Regions from separate parts of the Homo sapiens genome. Here regions 1, 2, 3 and 5 are each linked to region 4. Evidence: fine-mapped expression QTL. A gene starts in region 4. Each other region holds a variant in brackets. All regions are shown on one strand. Distances are from middle to middle.

Region 1 (5,000 bases), 54 kb before region 4:
TTAAAGAGAAGGTACTTAGCCTCACTTTATCTTCTTCAGATGTCAGACTTCTGCCTCGTATGTACGCGGAGGGCCAGAAGATTGAATAATTTCCCCTTCCCTTCATTCTTTTTAATAATTCACATGATATAAGCAAAAATCTTTATACTCTTTCCTCTTCCTTTTTCTCTGTTGTTGTTTATTGCAGTAGTCTTCAAACTTCTTTCCCCGCGAAAAAAACATTTGAAAAATCCTTTTGTGGGCGGCGGTGGCTGCGCTTGGCGCACGGGGTGGGAGTGGAGCCCAGGTCAGGAGCAGGCACCGCCGCCAGCGACTGGGAGCATGTTGGCCACCAGCTCGCCGCCATCAGGGCCGCCACCTCCGCCCTAGCCGCCTGGCTTCATGTTGCCACCGCTGGGAGATGGCCTGGGCGCTGGGACCAGTGCCGGTCGAAGTTAGGAAAAATTACAGTGGTAATCCTTCACCAAAAATATTTTTAAGAATCTGATCGTTGACAACACTATTAGGTCCTCCTTCAATTTTATTGCAAGTAAGATATTTTTGCAATAAATATTTTACTTGCGATATTTTTCTGACTTGGAAAGAAATGTTTAAACCCAATTATTAGATAGACAATTTCTGGAAGATACACCTAAAAAGCTTAACCAATATTTATCAAATAACTACCAATTACACTTATTTTATTTAGAAGTATCTTATGTTTCAAGCTAAAATTGTACATAAATGATTTTAAAATAACCCCATAAAATTGGAAATTTCACATTATAATTTTTAAACTATTGACTGCAGAAATATTCATACTAAATTTCAATATTTGATAGACTCAGTGTCTTAAAAAGATAACAGATGGACAAGAAGACGGATACTGAAAAAATATATGTGTATAGGTGTATATTCATTCTATTTATCTATATGCAATTTCATTTAACAGCTGAAAACAAGATTGTAATTATGCATTTGACAGAATTAGAAAGGCAAGTCATCATCTGCAAAAGAAGAGCTAAACTTAATCGAATAAAAAACATTTAATTTGGGTCATTACGTCCTGATTGCATTTGGGGAACATTTATCATAACTATGGCTTCTAAGACTACAGTTTAATTTTATACAAATTAACATTCTATTTTGTGCAAATTAACAACAAAATAAAAGAAAGTGTTGGGCCCCAGCAAAGCAGATCTAAAGAGTGTTTCAGTGACTGCTAAGTGCATTACTGCTATAAAATTCAAAATATAGCCCAGTTAGTTAATATATATCTAATTAGTACATTTTATGATAAATAAACAAATAAGCAGAGAAGTGGTTAATGAGTCACAGTCAGCAGTAGACTTAGCTCCAAGTAAAAATAAATACGGATTTGGAATAAGCAATAGCTTTTTGTTAAAAGACCTCAAAAAAGGATTCTACTACCAGTCTAAATAAATGGTTAAGAGAAAACACTAACTCACCCTCAATATATGTTCCTTTTCTTTGACGATATAACATGGATCTCTTAAAAGTAAACATGAAACTTTTTTGCTTCCTTTCTCTTGAAATTTTGAAAAACGTGCAAAAGAAACACACAAAGACACAAAGGAGTGGAAGTAGCCACCAAGCTAACCAAGAGTGGTGTACAATTAGAGAAAGATTTCTTCTTAGCAAATGGTTATTTCCCAACTTGGTCTCTTCAAATCTTTGAGTATTCAAGTTAGACTAGGCCCAGAACTTTGTTATGGGTTTGTCACCTAGGTAAGATAACGTACCAGAGTCTCCATATTCTGCCTATAATCTTTGCTGTGCATTCAAGAGAACTTCCCACAGAAGAAATACTTCTTTGACAAGAGTCAGGGAATGGAAGAGACTAAATTGTTGAATGAAAGTTGTCATTTATCTTGCTGCTCCAGTTCCTAATACATCTGAATTCAGAATAGATTATTTTTAATACTATGCTTTACCCTCAACTGAAATATATATAAGACAGTGAAAGACACCAAGTTTTCCCATGTGTTTATGGCATCTTGATTAAAGAAATCTTCCCCAACACCAATAACCTAAGATAGTTTGTTGTTTGGTTCTCCTGAGGTTTTACACTCTGGTAAAGCACCACAGTAAGATCCAGGATGGGGGAGAGGTATACTTGGAAAGTCTGTTTTGAAAGAGGAGATGAGAACGCAGAGAAAGGCAAGAGTCCTCTAACTCAAACCCAGAGCAGGCAGATCAATTTTAAGAAAGAAAGGCTCCATATTGAAGCTGGGGGTCTGGACATTGATTCCTTTAAAAGTTCCCAGGCTAGTGTAGCCCTTGGAACATTTTTATGCATCCGTAAATGTACTCATATCCCAGTTTGAAAATCACTGTTGGCCGGGCGCGGTGGCTCACGTCTGTAATCCCAGCACTTTGGGAGGCCGAGGCGGGCGGATCACGAGGTCAGGAGATCGAGACCATCCTGGCTAACGCGGTGAAACCCCATCTCTACTAAAAAAAAAATACAAAAAATTAGCCGGGCGTGGTGGCGGGCGCCTGTAGTCCCAGCTACGCGGGAGGCTGAGGCAGGAGAATGGCGTGAACCCGGGAGGCGGAGCTTGCAGTGAGCCGAGATCGCGCCACTGCACTCCAGCCTGGGCGACAGAGCAAGACTCCGTCTCAAAAAAAAAAAAAAAAAAAAAAAAAGAAAATCACTGTTATTTAGGACGTGTTAATGATGATTAAATTTTCCAGTTAGTTCATGGATTGAAGAATATATAAAGAAATTTTGACAGAACTAGAAGAGTAAGCATGCTGTAGGAAATCCTTGGCTTAGAGCTGTATAGTCTTATGACATTGCTTCTAGATCAATACAGAAGCAGGAGTTTGCAACCTCTCCTATTGGAAGGGGTAGCTGCAATTGTGTATGGGAAAGGTGCACCATGCAGAGATAGGGAAGCTTCAGGTGTATGAGAAGGGTGGGTGAGCATAGTGAAGCAGACAGTTTTTGGAGTACCATTCAGCTCACAACACTATGTTTCTTTGAAATATAGGGTTCAGCACCTGGAAGTCATATTCACTTGTCCCCCCCCAAAAAAAA[T/AT]AGATAAATGATTCTGAAATTGATACCTGGCCTAAGCTGAGCCAACCATCTTCCAAGGAATTTGAAATCTTGGAATAAACATCTGCCAGAACATGAGTTGGTAAAGCTTAGTCACCTTAATGGCTGAATACCAGAAGGAAGGTCTCCTATTCCTTGAAGCTCCCTGATTTTTGAAATTCCAGAGACAAAGGTTTTCAGTAGTTCCTTCTATATCATGCAATAATGCAGTGGCCTCATAGTATCATTTTTTAAAATGTAGTTTTATATTAATAAATAGATCAATGAAAGAATGAAGTCCAGAAATAGACCCAAATCATATGAGATTTTAATATATTATAAAGCTTGTATTTCAAAAATTAGGGAGAAAATAATCAATAGATGGAGTTGAAACAACCTCATTCCCTTTGCCAAAACAAATTTAAGATAAATCAAATATCTGAATTTTAAAAATTCATAAATCAGGCCAAAAGGATTTGCCGGGTCTGTTGTCTTCCAATATTACATTTGAGGTGTAATTTGGGAGTATGCCCTTCCTTAGGGTGCACAACTCTTGCAACTGACTTCTTGCTGGTGCAGATTTGGAGCCTGGGATTATTTTAAGGGTTGAAGTTCATAAACTGCTGCTTTACAGAATGTAGAAATGTTTGGTATGGTATCTGTCCAAAAATTTCTGGTCTACTGTAAAAACCATAACCAAAGTCTTTATCTAGACATTTTTAAAAAATGTTTCTTTCCTTTATTTAAAAGAAAAAATTATTTAGGGACACAGTGTGAGGAAGGCACACCTTCCATGGCTTTGGAGAGGATGCAGTTTCCAGAATGAATCACTAGGGCAGAAACATGCAGGGCAGGTAGGGGGAGATGCTTGGAAGTTAGGGGAGGGGCTGCATCCTCTAGCACCTCTGAACACAGAGCTCACTCAATCCATACATAATTTTTTGTTAAGATTCTGGGGCTGAAGAGTAGAGGACACAATTTTATGTATAGAGAGATTCTTTTTCATTTTTTTAAAAATAGAGATGGGGTCTCACTATGTTGACCAGGCTGGTCTTGCACTCCTGGCCTCAAGCGATCCTCCCAAAGTGCTAGGGTTAAAGGCATGAGCCACTGAGCCTGGCCAGAGGACACAATTTTTAACATATATGCTTATCATTTACATACTGGTCTCTCCATTCTACATCCCTCTTGCCTATAGCTACCTTCAGACCATTTAGAAGATAACACCCTTAATCTAATCTTTGCTGGTGAGTTTGTTCCCATTTTCTAGTTAAATACTCTTAAGAGAATATACTAAAAAAAAGAGTTGGGGCACATTCTTCAACAAGGCTACTGCTTCACAGTCACCAAATACTTAAAATTGCTTCACTCTGAGATATAGAAGCAGTTGGCTTTTTCAACACCAAAAGAGAGTGCTCAGTAATTTGGATTGCATGCTGCAACATAAAGCACTCTTCTGGATCTCCAGGCTGAATCACATTTAGGGATGATAATAATGATGATGATGATGATGATTTTTGCCAATACTACTTCATAGGTGGGTTTATGTTTTTCCAGGTAAATTTTTTTTTAAAGAGACAGTGTCTTGCTTAGTTGCCCAGGCTGATCTTGAACTCCTGGGCTCAAGTCATCCTCTGCTCCCACTTCTGCCTCCTAAAGTGCTGGGATTATAGTCGTGAGCCACCAAGCCCAGCCTGGTTTCTTTTGCCCTTTTGTAATGCTATCTGCCATTGATTCTCAATGTTTAGATCCAGTAATTCACTAGGATTGCAAAAGATGTTGATATTCAAATTTTCTTCTTCAGTAATTTGATGGACTACTTACATCAAGAGAAACTTTACCTCACCTACTATTTGGTATCTTGGTGGCACAGTTTACATAGAAACGGCAGGACAAATGCTTGATTGTTTTCTTTCATTTGACAGTTCTCAAATAAAAAGTTGGTTTCTGGCTTCTTCCG
Region 2 (5,000 bases), 42 kb before region 4:
AGTATTAGCTACTGATTGGCTATACATTGTTCTTTGTGCCACAAATTCCAGGAACAGGAAGATAATGAGTGAGGCAGCTAATCAGGAACAAAATGACTTTAAACAATTCCCTCGTGGCATGGATGGGGAGGCATGGCTGAAGACCCATGCTAATGGCTCTCTGGAGACATTATCTGCATATCTCACAGAGCTCAGATTGCTCAACAGCAGGGACCACAAACTGAAATATCTACAGTATCTAGGAGGGTAAGAAAAATAAATAAAGTGAGCTGGGTGAATAGAAACCTTTGCCCTACCACCCATTTTCATCCCTCTCCAAAACCACATGCACATGCAAATGTCAGACTCACCAAATTGTACATACTAAACATGCACAGTTTTTTATTTTATATCAATTATACTTCAATAAAGCTGTAAAAAAAAAAAAAGTACTACTCATTTTGTTTCCAGAAAGGGGTCCTGATCCAGACCCCGAAAGAAGGTTCTTGGCTCTCACGCAAGAAAGAATTCAGGGTGAGTCCACAGAGTAAAGTATAAGCAAGTTTATTAAGAAAGTAAAGGAATAGAAGTATAGCTACTCCATAGATAGAGCGGGGCAGTCCTGAAAGCAAGAGGAAGAACATGTCCACTTTAGGTACAATGCTTGTTTACAAGATAATAAAACAAAAAATGATGAGATATACTCTACTACAAGGGCTTGTGACAAAGAATGGTTAATCTTTGTGTAACTACTGTCTTCCACAAGAATGTATATTATTATTTTAAAGCAAAACTTATTCTTAAACTAAGAATGCTTTTGTTCTTAAGATATTGTAACATCAGGACATTTCCTGGGTCTGTTAAGTCCTGGGTCTGTTCAGTAAACATTATTAATCTGTTCCCTTAACCACAAATATCCTTTGACTAAGAATGCCTAACCTCATAGAAAGGCAGTCCAGCAGGTCTCAGCCGTATTTTACCCATCCCCTATTCAAGAAGGGGTTGCTCTGGATTAAACACCACTGACATATTCTCCCCTCCCTTTTCCAAGGGGATACTTAATCCTAAGAGTTGCAGAAGGACAAAAATTCATTTTTCTATAGCTTCTTTGGGCTGTGTAGAGGTGATAATATTCCTGCCTAACTCTTAGGTTCTCTTGTATTTAGGGTAGAAAGGAGCTCAGTCAGGAAGCATCAGTATAGTGATGGCCATTCATAACTCTGGGTCCTGACAAAAGGAAATATCTGGAAGACAATAAGTGTTCAATTATAGAAAATGTTGAGTAAGCTTATCTTGCATTCTTACTTAAAGAGTACGACAGCAATATACTCAACAACAGTAAATAAAATAAGTATCCCAAGTAAACTAAATGAGAAGGCTTTCCATGAATTGGGCACCAAGCTGATATGGGGTTGCTAGCCAATTTCAATATATGCTCAGAGTTAGAATACTGATACAGATTTTTACATTACCCATCCCTCGTTTCTTCTACGCAGCTGGCAGAGATCAAAGGAATAAGCAGGGTCAGTCTACATTTCAGAAAAATACACAAAAACAATGGACAAGACTAGAATTTAACAACAGGTGTACCACAGTTTTTGAAACATAATTTATCTCTTTCCAGTCATCATTTTTATTAAAAACAAATCAAGGTAGGACTGATTTGTTTGCAAAATAACCTTTAGTCATATTATACTTGACCTGATTATTTTCATAAAGTGCAACAAGAATAATTATTTGCCATATAGGCTCCTTTTTAAATTGCCTTTGATGAAACTTTGTTTCATACAAAATCTCAGATAGACCTTTCAAAACCTTGAGTCTAGCCATGGATTTGTGCTTGAAAATACCCGTATGGGTTAGGTCAATTTCTCTCTTCTTGAGGTCCCAAGATAACTTGGGGCTCCTGGGCCAGTAAGAAAGTGACATTCTTTACTTACCACAGGTCAGGAACCCTGTACAGGGACTGTATAGACAAGATATGAGGCCAGTTTTTCCCCAGAGTCTTTTATTGGCCCTATAAGTCAACTTTGAATCCTTATAGCAGTCTGTTCATATTTGAAGGCATGGCCTTCTAGTCAAAGCCTTGGTAAACTAACCAGTGTCTCCAATTGTGTCCTCTTATAAAAGAAAACAGATTCTTATTGCACTTGATAAGTTAAGTGTAAACCAAAAATAAAATGATAAGTCCCTCAACCATCTGAACTGACCCCTCCTCTCAGCCAAGGGCATTCCAATGTTAACCTGAAAAACTAGTTCACGCCATGATGGGAAGTGGGAGTCAGACTTGCCTCATTATCATTAATATCAACATAGACCTTAAGACTCGTAGAAGAGACTAATTAAGTCTAATAGGAAACATTTACAATCTATTCTCTCTGAAGCATGCTACCTGGAGGTTTCGTCCACATGATAAAACCTTTGTCTCCACAACCCCTTATTGTAACTCAGACATTCCTTTCTATTGATTCCAGGTCTTTAGACAGTAACTCAACCAACTGCCAATTCGGAAATATTTAAATCTGCCTATTACCTGGAAACTCCTGCTTCTGGTTGTCCTGCCCTTCTGAAGCAAACCAATGTACATCTTACTTGTATTGATTGATGTCTTACGTTTCCCTAAAATGCATAAAACCAAGTTGTAGCCTGACCACCTTGAGCACCAAAGGCCGTACATGGGCATGTCCTTAACCTTGGCAAAATGAACTTCTAAGTTGATTGAGACTTGCCTCAGATACTTTTTGGTTTACAAATGAATACTCATAAATTTTGGAGGAATTGGGTAGAGAGAAAGAAATATGCTCTTAATTGGATTATACTTTACTCAATTGTCAAAAGCTATAAATAGATCAAAAGAAAAATTTTCTTGACTCT[A/G]AAAAACAAAACAGAATCAGCAATGTTTTAAACAAAAAGTCATAAAAAGATAATTTTGTCTTTTATTAGTTCAGTCTATGCAATTAATTCCTGTTTTGCTTGATATTTATGAATACATTCATTTTCCAAGAGAGTCTTGGAAGGTTTTTTTCTCTATATTTTAATGGCACATTTTTCATACTTATCAGAGACCTGCATTTAAGAGTACTCATCAGAGTCCTACAGCTGATGATAAACTGCCTTTTGAAAAGGATTAAAACAAGACAATTGTCTACGGATGACTAAGAGTCTTAGGGCAGCCACAGTCAAAGACACAATTGATGAAAAAATTTGGTTACTTCTGTGGCACACAATAATTTAGCATAACAATTATTATTTTATTACTGATAATGTACACTAAATCATATTAGAATTATAGGAGTTTTGCATAATTTTGGAACACATACCAATAATACATTTATACAAATACAGCCCAAAGAAAGACAAATATTATTTTATATTTGACTATGCTTTCTGTGTGACCTTAATATATCAAATAAGCAAAATACATCATTTTTGGACTTTTGGGAACTAATATCTAGAAGGATTAATCAGGTCACAAAATGACTATATTTAGAATTTGATTTTGGGATGTTTGTTAAATATCAAAGGTTTAAAACACTTGACATTAAAAAATAGAATCTCAAGTCATTTATTTAGACAAAATAATAACTCAAAGATTTTTTAAAGGCAAAACCCTGGCCAGGCACGGTGGCTCACACCTGTAATCCCAGCAGTTTGGGAGGCTGAGGCGGGCGGATCACAAGGTCAGGAGATCTAATCCATCTTGGCCAACACAGTGAAACCCAGTCTCCACTAAAAATACAAAAAATCAGCCAGGCGTGGTGGCAGGAGCCTGTAGTCCCAGCTACTCAGGAGGCTGAGGCAGGAGAATGGCGTGAACCCAGGAGGCGGAGCTTGCAGTGAGCCGAGACTGCGCCACTGCACTCCAGCCTGGGCGACAGAGCGTCTCCATCTCAAAAAAAAAAAAAAAAAAAAACAAACAAAAACAAAGGCAAAACCCTTTACTCATTGATAGAAGGAAGCCTTAGCTTTCCAAACAATTTGTCTCTTTTCTCTCCCTTCATTTTCCTGTAGTTTATTCAAAAGGCAAACACAAATTTTGTATTATCTCTCAACATTACATGAAAATATTGTTCAAGAGAGAAAGCCAAATTTCACCTTTGCATTAGTGTACTATTAATGTCAAACCCAATTCTTAATAAAGCCTTATAGGCAAATCTATTCAATTTTAAATAGTTTGACCATTAGGTAACATTCTCACAAACCTTTTATTTTTATTTATTTATTTTTTGAGACGGAGTCTCGCTCTGTCACCCAGGCTGGAGTGCAGTGGCGCGACCTCGGCTCACTGCAAGCTCCACCTCCTGGGTTCACGCCATTCTCCTGCCTCAGCCTCCCGAGTAGCTGGGACTACAGGCATGTGCCGCCACACCTGGCTAATTTTTTGTATTTTTAGTAGAGACGGGGTTTGACCGTGTTAGCCAGGATGGTCTCGATCTTCTGACCTCGTGATCCACCCACCTCAGCCTCCCAAAGTGCTGGGATTACAGGCGTGAGCCACTGCGCCCAGCAAACACAAACCTTTTATAATCCTTCAAATTTTTTTGTTAATGAGCAGATTAATGCTCCAACGAAAACCCTGTTGTGCTTTTATTCCAATATTCAATTTACAGAAAAACTGAATATCCCTTAAACTCTAGGCAATATGTTCACACACAGAATTTCTTCTACTTCTTCTTCCTCTTTTTTTTTTTTTTTTTTTAATAGAGATGAGAGTCTTGCTATGTTGCCAGGCTGGTTTCAAACTCCAGGGCTCAAGCAATCATCCCACTTCAGCCTCCCAAAATGTTGGGATTACAGGTGTGAGCCACTGTGCCCAGCCAGGGATTTCTTTTACAAGATTAATCTTTCACGAACCTTCTACAACTTGCTCAAAATTTCAGCTTTATTCTATCTAACCTAAAACAATCATTTAACCCTATAAACTAGGCAGGAAAAAAATGCACATTCTTATGCTTTCTTATAATTTTTTTTTTACCAAAGACACATTCTACTTTCTTTACACACCTTGCACGTAAAACTGT
Region 3 (5,528 bases), 170 kb before region 4:
TAGTGATGTTGAGCATTTTGTACATGTTTGTTGGCCATTGTATATCTTCTTTTGAGAATTGTCTATTCATGTCCTTAGCCTACTTTTTGATGGGATTGTTTGCTTTTTTTCTTGCTGATTTGTTTGAGTTCCTTGTAGATTCTGGATATTAGTCCTTTGTCAGATGCATAGTTTGCAAAGATTTTCCCCCACTCTGTAGGTTGTCTGTTTACTATGCTGATTATTTCTTTTGCTGTGCAGAAGGTTTTTAGTTTAATTAAGTCACATCAATTTATCTTTGTTTTTGTTGCATTTGCTTTTGGGTTCTTGGTCATTAACTCTTTGCCTAAGCCCATGTCTAGAAGGGTTTTTCTGACATTATCTTCTAGAATTTTTATGGTTTCAGGTCTTAGATTTGAGTCTTTGATGCATCCTGAGTTGAATTTTGTATAAGGTGAGATATGAGGATCCAATTTCATTCCTCTACACGTAGCTTGCCAATTATCCCAACACTATTTGTTGAATAGCGTGTTGTGTTGGTTAATATTAAGTGTCAACTTGATTGGATTGAAGGATGCAAAGTTGTTTCTGGGTGTGTCTGTGAGGGTGTTGCTAGAGGAGATTAACATTTGAGTCAGTGGACTGGGAGAGGCAGACTCACCCTTAATCTGGATGGGCACCATCCCCCCGGCTGCCTGCACAGCAAGATAAAGCAGGCAGAAGAAGGTGGAATGAACAGACTTGCTGAGTCTTCCAATTTTCACCTTTCTCCCTTGCTGGATGCTTCCTGCCCTTGTACATCAGACTCCAAGTTCTTCAGCTTTTGGACTTTTGGACTTACACCAGTGGTTTGCCAGGGGCTCTTCGGCCTTCAGCCACAGACTGAAGGCTGCACTGTCAGCTTCCTTACTTTTGAGGCTTTGGGACTCGGAGTGGCTTCCTAGCTTCTCAACTCGTAGACAGCCTATAGTGGGACTTCACCTTGTGATGATGTGAGTCAACTCTCCTTAATAAACTCTCTTTCATATGTACATATATACTGTTAGTTCTGTCCCTCTAGAGAACCCTGACTAATACACGGTGTCCTTCCCCCAATTTATGTTTTTGTTTGCTTTGTTGAAGATCAGTTGGCCGTAAGTATTTGGCTTTATTTATGGATTCTCTAGTCTGTTTAATTGGTCTATGTGCCTATTTTTATGTCAGTACTTATGCTGTTTTGGTGACTATAGCCTTATAAGTATAGTTTGAAGTTGGATAATGTGATGCCTCCAGATTTGTTCTTTTTGCTTAGTCTTCCTTTGGCTATGCAGGTCTTTTTTGGTCCATATGAACTTTAAGATTGTGTTTTCTAGTTTTGTGAAGAATGATGATGGTATTTTCATGGAAATTGCATTGAATTTGTAAATTGCTTTTGGCAGTATGGTCATTTTCATAATATTGACTCTACCCATTCACGAGCATGGGATGTGTTTCCACTTGTTTGTGTAATCTACGATTTCTTTCAGCAGTGTTTTGCAGTTTACCTTATACAGATCTTTCACTTCCTTGGTTAGGTATATGCCTAGGTTTTTTTTTTCTTTGTTTGTTTGTTTGTTTTTGCAGCTATTACAAAAGGGGTTGAGTTCTTGATTTGTTTCTCAGCTTGGTCGCTATTGGTGTATAGCAGTGCTACTGATTTATGTACATTGATTTTGTATCCCGAAACTTTACTGAATTCGTCTATCAGTTCCAGAAGCTTTTTGGATGAGTCCTTTGGGTTTTCTATGTATACGATCTTATCATCTATGAACAGCGACAGTTAGATTTCCTCTTTACTGATTTGGATGCCCTTTATTTCTTCCTTTGGTCTGATTTCTCTGGCTAGGACTTCCAGTACTATGTTAAATAGAAGCAGTGAAAGTGAGCATCCTTGTCTTGTTCTAATTCTCAGGGGGAATGCACTCAACTCTTCCCCATTCAGTATAATGTTGGCTGTGGGTTTGTCATAGGTGGTTTTTATTACTTTAAGGTGTGCCCTTTCTATGCCGATTTTGCTAAGGTTTTTAATCATAAAGGGATGCTGGATTTTGTCAAATGCTTTTTCTGCATCTATTGAAATGATCATGTAATTTTTGTTTTTAATTCTGTTTATGTGGTGTATCACATTCATTGGCTTGCATATGTTAAACCATCCCTGCATGCCTTGTATGAAATCCACTTGATCATGGTAGATTATCTTTATGCTGTTGGATTTGGTTAGCTAGTATTTTGTCGAGATTTTTTGCATCTATGTTCATCAGGAATATTGGTCTGTAGTTTTCTTTTTTGGTTATGTCCTTTCATCGTTTTGCTATTAGGGTGATACTGGCTTCCTAGTTTGATTTGGGGAAGATTCCCTCTTTATCTTTTGGAATAGTGTCAACAAGATTGGTACTGATTCTTCTTTGAATGTCTGATAGAATTCAGCTATGAATCTGCTAATCCTGGACTTTTTTTCTTTTTGGTGTTTTTTTAATTGCCATTTCAATCTTGCTGCAAAAAAATTTTTTACTAAAAAATTTTAGGCAAATTTTCGCTAAAAAACTTGTTGTCAGCCAGGCTCACACCTGTAATCCCAGCACTATGGGACGTCAAGGCAGGTGGATCACGAGGTCAGAAGTTCGAGACCAGCCTGGCCAACATAGTGAAACTCCATATCTACTAAAAATACAAAAAATTCGCCGGGCGTGGTGGCATGTGACTGTAATCCCAGCTACTCAGGAGGCTGAGGCAGAAGAATCACTTCAACCCAAGAGGCAGAGGTTGCAGTGAACTGAGATCACACCATTGCACTCCAGTCTGGGCGACAGAGCAAGACTCCATCTTGAAAAAAAAATTAAATTGTTGGCATGGCCAGGTGCAGTGGCTCATGCCCGTAATCCCAGCACTTTGGAAGGCCAAGGCAGGCAAATCACCTGAGGTCAGGAGTTTGAGACCAGCCTGGCCAACATGGTGAAACCCCATCTCTACTAAAAATACAAAAATTAGCAGGGCATGGTGGTATGCACCTGCAATCCCAGCTACTTGGAAGGCTGAGGCATGAGAATCATTTGAACTTGGGATGCGGACATTGCAGTGAGCCAGGCTGTGCCACTTCACTCCAGCCTGGATGACACAGCAAGAC[C/T]GTGTCTCAAAAAATTAAAAAAAAAAAAACTTTGCGAATTTTTTTTCAACTCTAAACAGAGTTTTAGAGTTTCTATTTCTTCCTGGTTTAATCTAGAAGGGTTGTATTTTTCTAGGAGTTTATCAATCTCCTCTAGGTTTCCTAGTTTGTGTGCATAAAGGAGTTCATAGTAGCCTTGTATGATCTTTTGTATTTCTGTGGTATCAGTTGTAATAGCTTCCATTTTGTTTCTAATTGAGTTTATTTGGATCTTCTCTTTTCTTGGTTAATCTTGTAATGGTCTATCAATTTTGTTTATCTTTTCAAAGAACTAGCTTTTTGTTTCATTTACCTTTTGTATTTGTTTTTTGTTTCAATTTCATTTAGTTTTGCTCTGATCTTTGTTATTTCTTCTCTTCTTCTGGGTTTGGGTTTGATTTATTCTTGTTTCTCTAGTTCCTTGAGGTGTGACCTTGGATTGCCCATTTGCGCTCTTTCAGACTTTTTGATGTAGGCATTTAATGCTATGAATTTTCCTCTTATCACTGCTTTTGCTGTATCCCCAAGGTTTTAATAGGTTGTATCACTATTATCGTTTAATTCAAAGAAACTTCTTAATTTCCATCTTGATTTCATTGTTGACCCAATGATCATTCAGGAGCAAATTATTTAATTTCCATATATTTGCATGGTTTTGCAGGTTCCTTTCAGAGTTGATTTTCAATTTTATTCCACTGTGGTCTGAGAAAGTACTTCATATAATTTCAATTTCCTTAAATTTATTGAGACTTTTCTTGTGGCCTATCATATGGTCTATCTTGGAGAATGTTCCATGTGCTTATAAACAGAATGTATATTCTGCAGTTGCTGGGTAGAATATTCTGTAAATATCTGTTAAGTCCATTGGTTCTAGAGTATAGTTTAAGTCTGTTGTTTCTTTGTTGACCTTCTGTCTTGATTACCTGTCTAGTACTGTCAGTAGAGTATTAAAGTTCCCCACTATTATTGAGTTGCCATCTATCTCATTTCTTAGGTCTAGTAGTAATTGTTTTATAAATTTGGGAGCTCCAGTGTTAGGTGCATATATATTTAGGATTGTCATATATTCCTATTGGACTAGACTCTTATCATTACATAATGACCCTCTTTGTCTTTTTGAGATATTGTCACTTTAAAATCTGTTTTGTCTGATATAAGAATAGCTACTCCTGTTCACTTTTGGTGTTCATTTGCATGGAATGTCTATTCCCACCTCTTTACCTTAAGTTTATGTGAGTCCTTGTGTGTTAGGAGAGTGTCTTGAACATAGCAGATACTTAATTGGTGAATTCTTATCCATTCTGCCATTCTATATCTTTTAAATGGAGCATTTGGCCAGGTGCGGTGGCTGACGCCTGTAATCCCAGCACTTTGGGAGGCCGAGGTGGGCAGATCACCTGACATCAGGAGTTTGAGACCAGCCTAACATGGAGAAACCCCGTCTCTTCTAAAAATACAAAATTAGCCAGGCGTGGTGGTACATGCCTGTAATCCCAGCTACTTGGGAGGCAGAGGCAGGAGAATCACGTGAGCCAGGGAGGTGGAGGTTGCAGTGAGCTGAGATCGTGCCATTGCACTCCAGCCTGGGCAACAAGAGCGAAACTCTGTCTCAAAAAAAAGTGGAGCATTTAGGCAATTTCCATCCAGCATTAGTCTTGAGATGAGGTACTATTCTATTCATGGTGCTAGCGGTTGCCCGAATACCTTTTTTTTTGTAATAGTGTTATTGTTTTATAGGTCATGTGACAATTATCCTCTAAGAACATTCTATTTTGGTGTATTTTGAGGATTTGTTTCAAGATGTAGAGATGTAGAGCTCCTTTTAACAGTTCTTGTAGTGCCGGCTTGGTAGTGGCAAATTCTCTCAGCATTTTTTTGCCTGAAAAGGACTGTATCTTTCCTTCATTTATGAGGCTTAGTTTTGCTGGATACAAAATTCTTGGCTGATAATTGTTTTGTTTAAGGAGGCTAAAGATAGGAACACAATCCCTTCTAGCTTGGAGGGTTCCTGCTGAGAAATCTGCTGTTAATCTGATAGGTTTTCCTTTATAGGTTACCTGATGCTTTTGCCTCACAGCTCTTATGACTGTTTCCTTCGTTTTTACTTTAGATAATCCGATGACTATGTGCCTAGGTAATGATCTTTTTGTGATGAACTTCCCAAGTGTTCTTTCGGCTTCTTGTATTTGGATGTCCAGATCTCTGCCAGGGTCCATCTCACAGACCCCAGCTGCACAACAGATGAATAACGTACTCAGACACTGATATTCAGTGAAAGAGTGGGCTTAGGGGGTGAGGCCACTGACCAAAAGAGTTGTAGCAGCCGAGACCCTGATTAACTGGCCCTGCTGGAATTTATTCAGCATATATTAAATGACAAAGGCTTTGA
Region 4 (5,000 bases):
ACAGGAAGTGCTGGAGGAAAATGCTGAAGAGAATGAAAGATGTGGATAGTCAAGTAAGAAATATAACAAATCATCAATTAGAAATACACCCCAGCTGCTTCTAAGCATAATAAATTGTCAAAGCTTTCCATCAAGTGGAAGAAGACAGTCACAGTCAGATTTTGGAGAAGGCACATATTGAAAAATTCAACTGAACAATTAGTAGAAGCATTTCCTGTAGATTAGAAACCCTGCCCAGAACCACATCTGCCTTGAAACATATATAGCACATATTACGAAAGAACTGTTGTTACATTTCAATTTTCATCTGCAGACAAATTTAAGGTTAAAATGTAATATAGCCTTAAAGGTGACTGCTAGTTCAAACTTATCATTAGGCATATGGCTTCCTAACTCTTGATTATATGTTCGGAAAATTGCTAGGAAGGTTTCCATCTTATTGGTCAGATGGTATGTGAGTGTGACATATAACTCTTTGATGTGTGCTTTTCTTCTGGAATTTGTAGATAGTGCAGGATACTTAAATTTATTTTGCTTTTGTGAAGTAAGCAAATAACCTGACTTTAAACCTCAGTAAGGCTATTCAGCTAAATTCCATATATATCTATTGAAGATATATTACAGCAAGGCAGTGCGGTAGGGCCTGTCTCTTCCCTCAGGTTGCTGATAATCTCATGGCAGAGACATCTGTAAACAAGTTCTGAGGCAAGTGAGTGCTCACAGAATTATAAACAGGTTTGGGTAGTTTGGGGAGAGAAGTGAGTAAGAACAATAGCTGCCATCAGATATCATAAATTTGAAGTTTGATGATTTACTTTCAAGAATAAGGTTCCTGCCACTTAGTTTAGCTAGTTCTGGCCACATTATCTGCAGCTCCTTCCATCAAGAGGCAGAGACTATTTGCCTGCCCCTTGGATTTGGAGAGGCCTCACAATTTGCTTTGATTTGTAGAATTTGGCATATATGATCTTGTGTGACTCCCAAGTCTAGGCCTTAAGAAATTTTACAGCTTCTGCCTGCTCTCTTCTGGATGTTGCCCACAGACCAAAAACATAGCCTACTGCAGGATAAGAGGCCACATGGAGCCAACAGCAGACACATGAGTGAGGCCACCTTGGACTTTCAGCTTAGCTGATTCTCCAGTTCAGGGATCAGCAAACTACAGCCTGTAGGCCATAGCCTGCTTCTGTATGGCCCTTGAGCTATGAATAGCTTTGGGTTTTTAATAGTTTATAAAAATTAAATAAAAAAGAATATGTGACAGAGACAAAGTCTAAAATATTTACTATCTGATCCTGTTTTACAGAAAACTTGGCCAACCCCTGCTACAGCTGAATGTATCTATACGAGTGAGCCAAATCAAAACCAGAGAGGAACCACATAACCAACCTTCAGAATTATGAGAAATATTAAATTGACATTTTTGCAAGCAACTATATTTTGGGAGAGTTCGATCTGCAGCAATAGATGACTCAATCACAAGCTGATAAATGCTACACAAAGAAAAAGGAGACTGCTTCAAAGGAAATAATCTCATAAAGGTTTTGGGCCTTTTTGTCTCACTTACTTCATTTAGGAGAATTTCTTACCCCAATCTGTTGTCCATGGCTCTGCTTTGCATTCCAGGGAAGTTTTGGCAGCTATGAGCACATATACCTGCTGGTTACTCAAAGGACATTCAAAACATTTTAAAAATGAGTATTGAAATACAACTTTTCTAAAATTTTAAGAAACGGAATTTGTAAAATATAGTATTAATGCCCTAAAGCATTCTTCCAAATAAGAGGTCTATTTTTTCAGCATATTAATCTATCTGCAGTGAAACCTGTCTGGTTTTGTTATTAATGGACCTCCTTGACTTAGTGAGGTGAACTGTCAGCCCAGGTAGGGTGAAGAATGGCTGTGATAAAGGCGTGCAGCAGGGCAGCAATCACTTTACCCTCTGCAAAGGACACAGCTACCTGCCAAGGCTGGAACCAGGAAAACAATCTCAACCATAATTTAGATCTGATTATTATAATTTAGATCTGATTATTTATGCAGTGTCAACTAAGTCCTTGACTTACACTGCTACTATCTAAACTTACTTTTGTTGTATATCCATTTTGATCTCTATATTCACCCCTATTATTTTCAGAGAACCTTCAAACTATCCTAAGTAATTTTGCAGAAAAAGGCTATAAGGAAGAAGCAGTCAGGCCAAAGAGTCAGTAAACAAAAAGAAATGGTGGGCCACGTTTAGTCTTGATGCAAATGTGTGGGTTACAATCAGGGGTGGTGCTCATGGCTGAGCTTGGTAGTGGTTAAATACATGATCCAGACCCACTTGATTTTGAGGAAAGGACCAGTACAATCAATACTGCACATCTTGGTAAAAGGAGTTTGAGGAGATGGATCTGGGAGTTTAGGTCAGCTATGCTCAGGTGTACAAAAGCAACTCCCTGGGACTCCCATCCATACACAGGCCATTGAAACCTGACGTGTCTCTCTTACCCCCATTCCATTCCCCATCGATTCCGGAAGAAGAACTGGCATTTCTTCTGAGACAGCAAAGAACTCCTCCTAAGATTTCCTCTTTCCTAATTAGTTCTGTATGAAGTTTAACAAGAAAATCCCTCCAGGGCCGCCTCGAGGCCATGCACTCACGCAGTTTGGAAAGACGACCAGGGAAAAAGGATCTCAAACAAAAATTCTAGCTCGACGTCTGCCACTAAGTTGTCTAATTTTGGCCAGCATCAACTAAAGGCATACATAACACGGCCGTGCTCGGAATGCAAGGTGACCGCGAGGACCCAGAGGGCGCGCCATGCGAGCTCACAGGGCTGGGGGCCGCCTGGGCCCGCGCGTGCAGCCAGGGGCTTCCGGCCGCGGCCCTGGCGCGTGGTCTGCGCGCGCCCGGCCGTGCGTGCGGATGCGGGGAGGCTGCGTGTGTGCGCAGGGAGAGAACGCCGGCCACCTTCCCGCTTCCGAGCTGGGTGCGCGCCGAGCACAGGAGGTGAGTGAGAAGGGCGGCCCTGCAGGGTCTCCGAGGCGGTTGAGTCCTGCCACTGGGTGGAGGGTATAGCCACCGGACCCGCCTTTCCCGGAACGCGCCGTCCTCGGAAACGCCTAGACCCCGGCAGCTAGGCCGGGAGGCACCGCCCACTCCTCTAGAGCGGAGCGTGGCCCAGGTTGAGCCGCCGCACCGTGGGTCTCGGGTCTCGGTGACGAGCAGCTGCCCGCCTCCGGTGAGCGCGGGAGAAGGGGCCCAGTGGGGCAGTGGGCGACGCGGAGGGCCCAGGCCCAGGCCGCGGCCGCGCCGCATCCGCTGGTTGTCCACCTTGCCTTGCCCCAGGGTGCAATACCTGCCTTGCGTCGCCCGTGCCGCTCCAGCCACCGTCAAATCCGGGTAGCGACCCGGGGCGTTTGCAGCGGTGCCGAGGAAGAGGACGGGAACGGTGTTACGGTATTGGTGGGCCCCTAACAGGCCTGCGGCGAACGCTTTCCCGGAGCGCTAGGGAAGGGCCCCGGCGCAGGGATGTCGGAGGGATTGGGAAGGAATGTGAAACTAAGTGGGGAATGTGGAGAACGGGCGGAGAGAGAAGGAAATCCCACGGGGCTAGGGCTACAGGATTCCTACAGGCAGTGTTAAGGAACATACAGGGCGTTTTAAAAAGATTCCTAGAGGTGCAACGGAGTCTCACTTTTCCAAGCAGTAAGGAATGATGCCATCCTCAAGTACGGGTAGTCTTTGAATTCAGTATCCGTTCGCCTTCTTAATGTTGGATTTAGGAGGGAGATTTGCAGGGCTTTCATGATTTTGTTTCCTCTGCGTTTTGCACAGATTGCCTGCGTTTAGGAGGTGGCTGCGTTGTGGGAAAAGCTATCAAGGAAGAAATTGCCAAACCATGTCTTTTTTTCTGTTTTCAGAGGTAAGGAAAATTTGGGTTTGCAGTGTTCAACTGGGAACAAGTTTTTTAGCTTCTCCCAGGAGGCTTAAGCAAAAGAAGGGCGCTGAATTTGTGCTCTTAGTATGCATGTGTCGATGCCTGATAAAAGCACAAATTACTGAACGCGTATCAGTCTGGAGAACAGAATCGTTTATTACTAACAGATAAGAGACTATGACTTTTTTCCCCTCATAGACTAAAATGTTCGTTCAAATGAATGGCCATTGGATAACTCCAGACCTGAAAATAAACACTGTTGTCAAAACAGCATCCAGGCCGGGCGCGGTGGCTCACGCCAGTAATTCCAGCACTTTGGGAGGCCGAGGCGGGCAGATCACCTCAGGTCGGGAGTTCGAGATCGGCTTGGCCAACGTGGTGAAACCCCGTCTCTACTAAATATACAAAATTAGCTGGGTGTGGTGGCACACACCTGAAATCCCAGTTCCTCGGGGGGCTGAGGCAGGAGAATTGCTCGAACCCGGGAGGCAGAGGTTGCAGTGAGCCGAGATTGTGCCATTGCACTCCAGCCTGGGCAACAGAGTGAGACTCCATCTCCAAAACAAACAAAAAACAAAAAAACAGTGTCCAAGTATAATTTCAGATTAGAGCATGAGGTGATTTGAAAGCGAGAAGAGAGGATCAAGGCTTTTCCAAAAATGAAAAAAGTGTTGATATGTAATAAATGGCTCCAAAAACAACTTGCTAAGTATACAACATTGATTTTAGATGTCATAATTCCTAATGTTATGACTCATATATATTTTTTTCTGTTCTTCTGTTCAGTAGTTCACAACAGATCTGAGTGTTTTAATTAAGCATGGAATACAGAAAACAACAAAAAACTTAAGCTTTAATTTCATCTGGAATTCCACAGGTAAGTTCATCTACTTTTAACTTATAAATTATCCTAATTGGTTAAAAATGCCCATAATAATGCCCTTTACAAGGTTTTAAGTATCGTTGATGCAGCCACGAAGTTTGTTGTATATTCTAGTACGATTCTTTCATCAGAGGATTTGAAGAAATTCAAGAGTGAAGCTCTACTAAGCCATTTTGGATAATATATTTTTT
Region 5 (6,348 bases), 28 kb after region 4:
CTGAGGGCATCCAAAGTTTAGGAACATACGAAACAGTTTTCCTCTTCCTGAGGGTCAGCGCCAATGATGAGCGGGGCCGAAGTGAAGAGATAAACCCAATTTCCTATGAGGCAGATAGAAAGCAGCTTGTCCGTGACACAGGAGCTCCATGCTCTGGGATGCATCTTGTTGGAGAATGGATCCCAGCCTGAGTGAGCAGCCCACACTGATGGATTGGGGATAGCGGAAATTAAAAAATGCCTTCTGTTCCTCTCTTCCTTGCTCCTCAATAGGTGATTACCTTCCATTTCAGGCAGCAGAGTCTGAATTCCTATCTGCTGGGAGCACGGAAAGGGGCACAGCATCCTGGTTACAAACCTGAAGAGTGTACACATCTCTCACTAATGAAGCCATCACAATATGGAGCCAGGTCTTCCCATTTGAACGAGGAGAGAGGACAGGGTCACATTTGCTTGCCTTTTACTGCTTACTCACTGAACAGCATCAGGGAAGGTTTACTTTATGAACCTGGCACAAAGTAGGTTCTGGGCCTGATGTTAACAACATTCACTCTGCCCTCTTCACAAATGAAAAGGTGGAAAATTTCTGACTTCTGGTAAATTCACATTGCAATGACTGTTTCTCTGGACACAGATCTTGCAGTTCTCCCATCCCTCAAGGCTGCTGTGATTGATTTATTTTAAAAAGTCTTTCACGGTTTCAGGAGAAGAACAGTTGAAAAACTATAGGTAGAGGTTAATTTGGTGTTCACAAATCAAGTGATAGTTCACTCTATCTCATAGCTCAATGAATAGTAGGATTAGGAGAGAAATTTAACTTCACTTTTGTAGTGAATCCCTTTTTATATGTACCTTTAAAACTTTTGCACTTCCTTTTTTTTCTCCTTTAGTGAACCTTAGCATATAAACAAGATAATTTTTTAAAAAAGCATTTTATAGGTAGAAATGAACTTTTATATTTATCAGACTTGAATTTGAAAGCAGGTAGAGTAGGCAATTGTTTCGTCTGCGTAACAAACTCCTTTTCTTTCCCCTTTTTTTTTAAAAAAAATTATTCTTTTTAAGAGATGGGGTCTCACTGTGTTGACCAGGCTGGTCTCAAACTCCTGAGCTCAAGTGATCCTTCTGCTTTGGCCTCCCAAAGTATAGGTATTACAGGTGAGAGCCACTATGTCTGGCCCCAACTTTTTCTAGAAAATTCTGAGAATTGTCTAATCCACGAACTCCATCTACATGGTTAGTCCAAGTCACCGTGTTACTACAATATGGCCTAAGCCATGAGTACTACCCACTCTTCAGAGTCTAGAATCCTGGAGAGAGTTTACCTCTATTTCATTCTGTCTCCAAATTTTACAGTATTTCTTCCTGCATTGAGTGAAAACCTTTGCAGATGGATATTCTGTTCTGAACACTTTTCTCAGAGGTGCATCATGCTGTGTTGCTGGAGCCTACATCTGTGTATAATGTAACCCTTGTTACCTTATAGTAATTACTATATAAACTTTGTCGATGTGTTACTATAAAGCTGGGTAAAAGTTGTGTTAGGTTTACAATAAACATTTTTTGTTGCATACATTGTATATATGTTTATAAATTGCCTTGTTTTGAACCAGAGCCAGGCTTATTCCCATTCCAAATGAAAGCACCAAAGTCTCAAAACCTCCTGCCTCTTGCTTCTGTTAGGCTTTGGTCTTATCCTCTACCCATGAATTGTTTCTTTGCTTTCCACATAGAACCCTAGCTCAAGCTACTCCAACTCAAAAGCATAGAGAAATTATAAAATTCAAGAACAGATGTTAGAATGGAAAATGAGTTTAACTTAAAAGAATACCAGCAGTCTCATGTTTAAAGTCTAACAACTTTGTGTTTATTTTTGCTTTAATCTTGTCATGGGTAAATTTTTAGCTGTTCATTTTTATACAACACCACAGGATCAGAGATAGCATGAACACATTAGTCTCTACAAGGCTAATTCTACCCGAGCACCCATCAAAGCGACCCAAATGACACGCCATGCATCTTGAGTGACCGTGCACTGCCATATACTCTGAGCTCTACTACAGGTAATGTTACACCAAATTGACATTGTAACTGTGTTTCAAATGTCTCTTAGAGACAAATACAGATCAGTAGGTATAATAACCTCTGAAGACTTCCAAGAGTAATGAGGTTTCGCCAAGCCTTGTTGTATTTATCATGGATGGTTTTCAGGAAATAACTTACGAGAAAGCCTGATTGATTTTACAGTCATTTTGACCTGTGATTTATTTATTAAGTACAATTTGAAGATTCCTAAAATAAAGTATTGCCAATAAATTATAGATCCTGTATCTCTTTATAAACAAATAATCCCTTGTGATTTTTAAAGTTGCAAGAAAATGCTGATGGAAAAATTTTCATGATGTTGAAATAGGTATAAATAAAAGCTTATACAAAGCCACTGTCTCAACATCAGCAGGATAAGAGAGAAGAACTTCTGAGACATTATACTGTTCCCCAAAAAAACACTACTTTTTTTCCTTCCCCTTTTTCTCTCCTCACTCTGTGCTTTCCTCCTTTCCATCCTTAATAACTGAGCTCCATCTATGGTTTTAATCTTACTAAATCAGAAATTGGCTTGGTTTCATTTGAATTTCCTTTTATATGTGCTCATGATTAAAAACAAAACAAAAACCCTACTTTTGATCACAATCAGATCTTTACCGTCTCTAACCATTTACTGCCTAGTATATGAAGTATATGAATTATTCTAATTCAATAGGATTCTAATGCAATTTGGCAATAACTAGTATTATTTGGATTTAAAAAGCCATTGGCATAAACAGAGATGTTTAGGGGAAATGAGCAGGCAAGCAAATAATTTAGAAAGAAGTGATGGTTTCTGTGGTTAAAAATAAAAGTCTGGGATTTAGTTTTTCTTTGCCATACAGAAAACAGATGTTGCTATTTTTGTTCAAAATACAAAACTTAAATTCCATGCTTAGACTCTGGAA[T/G]GTGTAAAGTAACTATGGATACCAAATTTATGATTTAAAAAAATGACATTTAGTCTTCTGTTCATATTTGAAATCAGGAAATAATTGTGCTCCTGAAATGTTAACTTTCTATATAACAGATTCACTGATTTACACTCAGGAACACTGAAGATACTCAGTTCTGGGCTGTCTTTGGGGGCATAAGGTTATTACACTAGTCTCTTGGGAACAAAAATAAAAATAGGCCATGGAGAGATGTTCTTGCTCCTCCCTTTTCTCCTTTTCTATAATCCTTCTCTTCCCCTAGAAAGATCTGGACAACCTGGCTTTCACCAGCCTACTGCTGCACCCTTGCACAGCTGCTGGCCCACTTGGGTGGAGGCTTCCAGTGGCACCCTCCACTGGGACAGTCCCACCCCCCTATCCTTGTCCCCAGAGGCTCCATGTCTCACTCCCCACCCCATCCTTCAGAAACTAGGTGAGCTAGTAAAATGGAGTAATTATCTTCTGCAGTTTGCTTGAGTGTTGGCAAGAAATTCCCAATCTCATATCACTTACTCTTATATGTGAGAAATAATTATTCTAATTCTGCCCTGTCCCAACAAATCTAAGCCCATTGGAAGAAATCATGAAGATAACAATTTTCATCCCATTGGGTCAATATTGAGTGTTATAATATCTCTGACACCCCAATAGGGTGTAAGCCCCAAGAAGGCAGTGATGGCGCCTGAGTGCTCACCATGGATACATTCACTCAGACACAGTCACTGCCTGGCACATAGTAGATGCTCACACAAAAAAGGAAAGAATAAAATATACAAACACACAGCAATAATAGTGACTTTCCCAATGTAATCTGTTCATAAGATTGATCAATCTGTTATAAATGCAATGATGCTTCTATTTATTTTTAAGAAAAAAACTCATACATTTTCCTTATACAAATTATGTATGTGAGCAGAGTTTACATTGGGGTCTTTTGGAATGAACTGTTTAATTACTATTTTCCAGGTTTGTCAGAATAATCATTTATCTGAACCCACTAAAATTTCTATTTGTCTTTCTCTCTCTTTTTTTTTTTCCTGGCTGCCCATGAGAATGCTGAGACATTATCAAATAGATTTCAATTCTGTGACCTGAACTGCAGTTGTGTAAGTGCTATAAATCAAAATCATTTGCTTTAGTAATTGAAGAGTAAACTGAAAGACAATATTGTAGATGTTAATGTTTCAATGTGAACATGTAATAAATTAAAAAGAACAAACACTGCTTTCTATAATAGAAGCAAAAGTTATGGGTTTTCTCCATGGTCATATTTTATTCATTATTCTACTTTCTGCACACTGTATATGCTTGAGATAAAACAATAACCAAGATGATAAATACATAAAGACTGTTAGTTGTAGTCTGGGAGCCTAAATCAGAGGAGTATTCTTGCTTAATGTCCCATGGTTCTAGCTTTTCTCCACAGAGCAGGATTTAGACGTTTTCATTACTACACGAAGAAGTCATCATTTGTCCTAAGATAGACAAATGGGAATTTAAAAGTTATACAAAAGACATCTTTTTCTTGGGTTAGAGATGTCTAATACATCATTTCTACAGGATTAATTTTTTTAATCATATGAGCAACCTGACCCATTGCATTATATGGATTAGAAAACTCTCTAAGAAGCAAGAATATCAAATCACTCTGTGGTTGGTTTTTGTGAAATTGTCTGTCGTAAATTGAGTACTCACTAGTATTCATGTTGGCATTTGCAAAATTACCACTATGTTAAAACTCGCTCCCAGTTGTACCTGTGACTGTGTTTATCTGACTTCAGTTTTACTGTCCACGATTTGGAACGTGAATGGAATCTGGGACAGTAAAGGTGTTGAGGAGAGCAATAAATGAGATCTCATGTATCCATTTTCATCAGAAAAAAATGGAATAGGGACTGCAATTTTACTAACTTCGCAAATAACTGAGAATGTTCATTTTCTCACTTCAATGTTATCTCCTTCACTAAGAGCGTAAGTACAGAAAGCATAATTCATGATGTAATAAACTATAACACCTCCTTTTCTTAATTTAAAATATTTCCTTTTATATTACTCTCCCTTGATTTGGGCTTCTGTATTTTCTTAAAAATGCTTTCCTTTACATTCTAATTTTGACCACACTGGAAACTGATTTTACAATTTTTTATTAAAAAGTGTTCCAAACCATTTTTCTTAAATGTGATTCTGCCCGTGCCATCAGTCCTACAAAAGGAAGCTTTAAAATTAAAATGCTGTCTTCATTAACAAATAAGCAAAGCATTAACCAATACTCTAAGAGACAAGCCCATTTTTTGAATGGTGAAAAGTGGTAACAACTGCCTTTTCTTCATCTATGTGCAGGTGTCAGAAATTACTATTAAACACAACCTATATATAGTAAAAATCTGATAATCCACATTTCTTATAAGCTACTTTTTACATTTTTAATGTCTGGGTATCCTAAAGGGGTTTTTCCCTGATACTTGACTATTACATCCGCCTTTGCTTCTGCATGAACACGTTTTACATCGTGAATTATCTAATTAATATAGAAATATTTTGAGATAATGCATGATATCATATTTAATTTATGAACTGCCTCATGACAAAAGGTAATGAGAGCTGATACAATCCCTCTCCTGAAGTGGCAGCGAGTAACCCGGGCAGGCTTTGCTCTGGGTCACTCAGCCCTCTCTCCACCACAATCTGCCACCAGTGCCCTTACAGTAATCTGCTTGTGCTCAATGTCCTCGGAGGTTTTTGAGATTAACTTGGATTTGGCAAATGTTAGGTGGGATTTTGTGTTTAAATAATGCAAGGTTATAGGACTTCAAGAATAAATGAAACCACATCTCTAAATACAGTCTATGCCTTTGCTGCATGCTTGCTTTTTGGTGGAGCTTTGAACAGGGAAACTGTCTGTGATGATTTGTTAAAATGAATACTTGCTACATGCTCTCCTCAAAGTCCTTAACTTGGATTTATTAAAGCAGTTGTACGTATGATGCTGTGGTTATTACTAAACACATAAAAATTATCAATAATCAACCCTAGCCTCAACAGTTTGCTGTTCAACAGTGGTAAAAATAACAAATAGACAAAGCATTAACATTACTAAGGATCAGCAAATTTACATATTAGAAAAAATGTTTAGAAATGCATCTATTGGAAGCTTCATGGTATCAACTGCCCCCTGCCCTTTGCAATCCGCCACCTAGCCTAAGAGATCTTACTTTTAGTTTTTTAAAATATTTTGGATAATGTGCAGAGGATGAGCTATTCCTAAATATTGGATGTAATTTTAAGTTAATGACTTTTGCCTTAATTCACTCTGTACCATGTTTTCGACTAGA

Direction of the effects. Positions count from the first base shown, and alleles are read on the strand shown. Sizes are in standard deviations (SD) of each study's normalised expression. Not every link is listed here.
In carriers of allele T in region 1, the expression in CD4 T cells of the gene that starts at base 2,881 in region 4 tends to be higher than with AT alone (moderate effect, 0.53 SD a copy in CEDAR).

What was found. PIP is the estimated chance that this variant, and not a neighbour inherited with it, causes the effect.
Region 1: its variant is the best candidate, but not a certain one, in a credible set for the expression of B3GALNT1 in CD4 T cells (CEDAR, PIP 0.84).
Region 2: its variant is the best candidate, but not a certain one, in a credible set for the expression of B3GALNT1 in T cells (TOPMed, PIP 0.54).
Region 3: its variant is the best candidate, but not a certain one, in a credible set for the expression of B3GALNT1 in whole blood (TOPMed, PIP 0.73).
Region 5: its variant is the best candidate, but not a certain one, in a credible set for the expression of B3GALNT1 in tibial artery (GTEx, PIP 0.50).

What each region holds. Positions count from the first base shown.
Region 1 is chr3:161,157,143-161,162,142 of GRCh38, reverse strand. All of the region lies in intron 1 of LOC124906300 (a long non-coding RNA gene), which reads right to left. Among named protein-coding and RNA genes, the nearest start is that of B3GALNT1, 54 kb to the right of the region's middle. The variant T/AT (reference allele first, on the strand shown) is at 3,044.
Region 2 is chr3:161,144,931-161,149,930 of GRCh38, reverse strand. It overlaps LOC124906300 (a long non-coding RNA gene), which reads right to left and starts at 2,819. Exons shown (of 3, transcript XR_007096148.1): 1 at 1-2,819. The variant A/G (reference allele first, on the strand shown) is at 2,854.
Region 3 is chr3:161,277,725-161,283,252 of GRCh38, reverse strand. The region is part of intron 1 of LOC105374187 (a long non-coding RNA gene); the gene reads right to left. Among named protein-coding and RNA genes, the nearest start is that of NMD3, 59 kb to the right of the region's middle. The variant C/T (reference allele first, on the strand shown) is at 3,122.
Region 4 is chr3:161,103,230-161,108,229 of GRCh38, reverse strand. It overlaps B3GALNT1 (beta-1,3-N-acetylgalactosaminyltransferase 1 (Globoside blood group)), which reads left to right and starts at 2,881. Exons shown (of 5, transcript NM_003781.4): 1 at 2,881-2,995; 2 at 3,824-3,911; 3 at 4,713-4,803. LOC124909453 (a long non-coding RNA gene) reads right to left here and starts at 3,549. Exons shown (of 2, transcript XR_007096147.1): 1 at 3,345-3,549; 2 at 1-1,659. RefSeq lists silencers at 2,977-3,066, 3,077-3,326.
Region 5 is chr3:161,074,398-161,080,745 of GRCh38, reverse strand. PPM1L (protein phosphatase, Mg2+/Mn2+ dependent 1L) reads right to left here. Exons shown (of 4, transcript NM_139245.4): 4 at 1,844-6,348. Among named protein-coding and RNA genes, the nearest start is that of B3GALNT1, 28 kb to the left of the region's middle. The variant T/G (reference allele first, on the strand shown) is at 2,993.